Linked DNA regions of Homo sapiens: region 1 is linked to region 2. The links come from fine-mapping of genetic effects on gene expression. Tissue or cell type: whole blood. Region 2 holds a variant in brackets; the other region holds the start of a gene. All regions are shown on one strand. Distances are from middle to middle.

Region 1 (2,759 bases), 81 kb after region 2:
CTCACCACTTTGGGAGGCCAAGGAGGATGGATCATTTGAGGTCAGGAGCTAGAGAACAGCCTGGCCAACATGGTGAAACCCCATCTCTACTAAAAATACAAAAATTAGCCGGGTGTGGTGGTGGGCGCCTGTAATCCCAGCTACTCGGGAGGCTGAGGCAGAAGAATTGCTTGAACCTGGGAGGCGGAGTTTACAGTGAGCCGAGACCGCGCCACTGCACTCCAGCCTGGGCAACAGAGCGAAATTCCGTCTCACGAAAAAAAAAAAAAAAAGTTCCAGGAAGAATAAACGACTGGATTCTTCAGAAATGCCAAAACACGGGAGGGCATAGGTCAGGAAATTAAATTAGCTTCATTTACTAAAATGTAGAGTAATGGGTTTAGCAGATTAGGTTGTAAGGAAGGCAGAGGCTGAATGTCATTCTAAGAAATTTGAATTGTATCCTGAAGGTGAGGTATAAAATAATAACACACATTTACCTTTCAGAATGAATATTTTGGAGGCAATAGTGAAGGTGGGTTAGAAAGGAGGAAAGACTGGAGAGAGATAAGGAGTTAGATTCGGAACCCCTACAAGAGAAAATTAAGGTCTGAATTTGGGGATGGGGTCGCAGAGGGCAGAGGATGAAGAAATAAATACAGAAGACATTAGAAAGGACTCTGGTTTGTGGAGTGGAGAAAGGACAGGGAGAACTTGCTTCTAATTGGCCTCCTTGCCGGAAGAAGCACCCCATACATACTCCAAAAACTTCCTCTCAGATCCAAGACTCCCAATGCCCAAATTTGGAAATTCTACAACTAAATAACCATTCTGCAGGTTTCTTTTCCGTACGGCTTCACTTTAAAATTTGAAAACTCCTGAGATTTTTCAACATATTAAAGCGTGTCACACTAAGGAGTGACACACAAGACCCAGACTCTTCCCTAGGCTGGGAGAGACTCGGCGGTTGAAAGCAGGGAGGCGCTACAGGAGAGAAAGGGCTGAACCCCCGCTTCCGCAGATTTCACCTATTTTTCAGTTTGCCTGGAGCAGGCCACGCAAATTCCCTTCCCTTGAAGGCCCAAGGAGCGTCTGGTAGATTGCTGATTCTCTGCCCATCACCGCTTCTGGAAGTGAGTGAAGGACACCTTTCGTGCCCCGCACCCTTTGCCCCCCGCTTAACATTTGCTCTAGTCACTTCCGGCCCGTTCCCACGCTCCGGAAACCATTATTCCGCTTCATCCTACCTCCAGTCCTCACCTGAGTCCTTTTCTCCAAACACCGACTTCAGTGCTTAGAGATAGTAACTAGGGAATCTGGGAGGTGGAACTGCATCTTGGGACAAGTAGTCCAAGGTAGAAGAAAGCAGTGGAGAACTACAGTTCCCAGAATGCACTTCCATTTCCTACCTCTTCCCCAAGAGGCCCCCCTCGACCTCCTTTTAAAAATTCTCTTAGCCACGTTGATTGTACGGGAAAAGCCTTTTTAAAACATCTTTTACGTTGCTTAAACCTACAGTTTCGAAAGCATTCCGAAGGCTAAAGTGAGAAATAAGCCCAGGCTAGGGAGAGGAGAAACGAAGTTCACGTCCTAGTCTGGCACCGGGTTGGATTGTCGCTGGGACGGCAGTCAGGCATTTGGTGTGGTCGCCTAAGGGGTGGGTCCTTCGGCGGGAGCTCCGGGAAACCCCGTGGGCCTGCGCGGCGTTCTTCCTTTTCGATCCGCCATCTGCGGTGGGTGTCTGCACTTCGGCTGCTCTCGGGTTAGCACCCTATGGTGCCTTCTCTTGTGATCCCTGACCTAACCTGTCTCTTCCTTTTCCTCAACCTCAGGTGGAGCCGCCACCAAAATGCAGATTTTCGTGAAAACCCTTACGGGGAAGACCATCACCCTCGAGGTACGGGCCGGGTGGTCATGAGGAAGCCAAGGTCCGAATAAGGTCCTGAGGTGGATTTTAGGACCGGCGCTGCTTTCCATGTCTTAGACCATGATTCCGAATTTGGGTTCTAAAACTTAAGCTTTGAAATGAGTACCTTTTGCTGAGCAACGACCTAGAGGTGATTTTCGGTGGCCAAAGGCTGGACCTGTCTCCTCTCGAGGGGTTCCAGCTAGTTAGTTAAAACGGAGGAGCTGCGGTGGGGAAGGAGACGCTCTGCCCGCCGGGTGCGAGCACGTGTGGCCCTGCGGCCGCCGCCCGCTCTGGGCTGGGGAGATGAAGGTGCTTTCCGGTAGCCGACTTGGGAGGTTGCCCACTGGGTGGGTAATAGGTCTCTCGAGTAGGTCTCAGCCCTGTCGCTGGTTCGGTTCAGTGGTAATTGTCAAACTAAATGAGTTCTGCTGTAGTTCCTTAATGTGTAACCAACATGCTTTCACTTTAACACTCATAGGTTGAACCCTCGGATACGATAGAAAATGTAAAGGCCAAGATCCAGGATAAGGAAGGCAAGTAGTATTTTGTAGTTAAGAAAACTTAACCTGCGGAGACTTCGGCCTACCTGTAGGTGCTAGACATACCTGCTCTTGGTGATGGGGGAAGGGGTCAGATTGACAAAGCGAAATACTTGTGGAATAACACAATAGACATTGGTGATCGGGGAGCACAGTACCTAGATTGGAATCCTTGAGGTGTATTTCACTTGCGTGAATTTGGACACTTATTTATTTATTTTGTGTGAGATGGAGTCTCCTCTGTCGCCCAGGCTGGAGTGCATTCGCTTGTCCCGGCTTACTGCAGCCTCCGCCTCCCGGGTTCAAGTGATTTTTGTGCTTCAGCCTCCCTA
Region 2 (2,759 bases):
CCACCCTGGAGCCACTGAATCAGAAGCTCTGTGGGTAGGCCCAGCAAGCTGTGTGTTAACAAGCCCTCATGTACAGGTGATTCCAGTGCACATTTAAGTTTGACAAACACTGGACTATAGCATTAAGTACCCTCTGGAGCTTGCCATCTGAGAGATCTTGTGTTCAGTCCTTATCGCGTCATCAGCAATATTGAGAGCATGGATGTCACAAAGAGGAACAAACACCATCCATCCCTTTAAAGGATTTCCAAGGAGGCCACAACATTACTCTTCCCATTCAGATCACTGAGGTTGGCCAATGCCATACTCTGCTCATACAACATTTCTCTCCTTTCCCATCGCCCCACCTCTGTTCACTCCCGTTATGTGTGTGTCAATTATCCTAACTGCCCCATCACACTGTGATTCCGAAAGCAAGAACCATAGTTTTTTTCTTCTTTATGTAATCTTTGTTTTCTGTGCCCATCAAACCCAGGGAAACAATTAATGGCAATACGACCGGGTCTTTGATTCCTGATTCTCCACCCAGTCACCACTGGGTTATTAGAAGTTCAAGCTCCACACTGGGTCCCCACTATTCCCAAACATGCCCCATGACTACACTGCTCAAGAGAATTATGAAGCCAGGTGCAGTGGCTCATGCCTGTAATCCCAGCACTTTGGGAGATCAAGGTGGGAAGATCACTTGAGTCCAGGAGTTTGAGACCAGCCTGGTAACATGGTGAAACCCCATCTCTACAAAAAATTAGCCAGGCATTATGGCACATGCCTGTAGTCCCAGCTGCTCAGGAGGTTGATGTGGGAGGACCGCTTGAGCCCAGGAGGTTGAGGCTGCAGTGAGCTGTGACTAATAAAAGAAAAGAAAAAAAAAAGGCGGGGCACAGTGGCCCATGCCTGTAACCCCAGCACTTTGGGAGGCTGAGGCGGGTGGATCACCTGAGGTCAGGAGTTTGAGACCAGCCTGGCCAACATGGAGAAACCCCATCTCTACTAAAAATACCAAAAATTAGCCAGATGTGGTGGCAGGCACCTGTAATCCCAGCTACTTAGGAGGCTGAGGCAGGAGAATCACTTGAGGTGGGGGTTGCAGTGAGCCGAGACTGTGCCACTGCACTCCAGCCTGGGCAACAGAGCAAGACTCCATCTCAAAAAAAAAAAAAAAAAAAGAAAGAGAGAGAGAGAGAGAGAGAGAATTATGGTCCCTCACTACTTCCCCT[A/G]GTGAAAAGAGGAGACCAACAGAGCCCACTGCTGCTGGCAGCAGAGACCAAGGCCTTGTCTCCCACTGGCCTGTCGCTCACCACGTCTCACAGCTCAGCTTTCACTTCTGTCTTTCATTGCAGAAGGGGAAGCATCTCTTTTCACCAGTGATGACAATTCCTGAGTCCTATAAGACTCCTCCCATCTGCCAAAGAAGTCTGATATTTTCAACACCTGTGAAAAGATGGGAAAAAAAGAAATCTGGTATTTATAGCTCTGTCTGCAGATGACTGAGGCATTCTCAGAACTAGACAAGACAGTATTGAACAATACCTTCCAATGTCTTACTCCCACCAACCGTGAGCTGGTTGTTCAAGGTCAGGATAAACAGAGATGTAAATTTCTTCCACCCCACAGTAAGTTCCTTCTCCATGTAGGGTATCAGGATCATCCACTCTCTCCCCTCTTGGTGTATAATTATGAATATACATGAAATTTTTACAATCCTAGGACTCAACTTAAGTTTCAAAGTAAATCTTAGGAGACTCTCAGAAAAAGATAAGCGCTGATGGCCTTTCCTGATGGCCTAGAGCTCCTGGAGAGGTGGATCCTCATTACATTCCTTCTCTGTGGTGCCTATCATGGCACTTTCACCATGTGAAAAAAGGGAAATGTTCGACAAGCAAATAAATGCATTATCAAAATTTCGTCTCATCTTAGAAAATGCAAAGCAAAGCCCAGAAGAGAAGGCCCATACGGGTAGTTAGTTTTTAGGAAAAAGTGAGTAGAAGGAAAGTTGGGCAGGTCCCTGCCTGGGCAGTGCATATTCAGATGTGCAACAGGCATGTAGGGGGAAGGGAGGCTGGAGGCCTGAGGCCTGGGCAGGTGGAGAAGGGCATGTGAAGAAAATGGACATATTGGGGCTGAAAGAGGGAAACAATAATGTGGAAAAATGAGACAGGAAAAGAAAAAGAAGTCAACATGGGAAGATGCCAAATATCTATTTTGCCAAGCCTGCAGCTAGCTCAACAGAGAGGACCAGAGTAGAGAAGTTTCAGTATAAACAAGTAAGAAAATGACCTGGGATTTCTGTACAAATGACTCTGTCCTCCAAAGACAGGCAGGGGTAAGAGTCTGTGTCACCCAAATATCTAAGAATCCACTGTGGAGGTCCTAGTCTTAGTTCTGGTCTACATTGTCTATCCTCTCTGGATCCCACAAGACTTAAGAGTATTTATCATACTTTGCCTATGAGAGTGCAGCTGCCTCCTGCTCTGGAGTATACACTTGTTCTTGGCAAGAGCAACATCTCACAATGAGTTTCCAGCCATCACAACACCTAGAAGGGTATGAGCACAGTGTAGACACTTGCTGATGGGACTGCAATCAGAGGTGAAAACCAGAAAAGTGGTGCAGACTTTTCAATCAGCCTTGCAGGAGACAGCACTAATTTTGCCACCCTAAAAACCTTTCTTCAAGCTCAAACACCTAGTCCAAAGGATATATCTGTCTGTTAAATATGCTCGCAGGGCTGCTCAGATGAGACAGTCAATGAAGTGCCC

The links. PIP is the estimated chance that this variant, and not a neighbour inherited with it, causes the effect. A credible set is the group of variants that fine-mapping cannot tell apart.
Region 1: it holds the start of CLHC1, and the variant in region 2 is the best candidate, but not a certain one, in a credible set for the expression of CLHC1 in whole blood (TOPMed, PIP 0.74).

What each region holds. Positions count from the first base shown.
Region 1 is chr2:55,230,997-55,233,755 of GRCh38, forward strand. It overlaps CLHC1 (clathrin heavy chain linker domain containing 1), which reads right to left and starts at 1,297. Exons shown (of 13, transcript NM_152385.4): 1 at 1,227-1,297. RPS27A (ribosomal protein S27a) reads left to right here and starts at 1,692. Exons shown (of 6, transcript NM_002954.6): 1 at 1,692-1,712; 2 at 1,812-1,876; 3 at 2,367-2,421. The coding sequence starts at 1,829. RefSeq lists enhancers at 1,342-1,771, 1,792-1,971.
Region 2 is chr2:55,149,772-55,152,530 of GRCh38, forward strand. No RefSeq gene overlaps it. Among named protein-coding and RNA genes, the nearest start is that of CLHC1, 81 kb to the right of the region's middle. RefSeq lists an enhancer at 1,165-1,214. The variant A/G (reference allele first, on the strand shown) is at 1,218.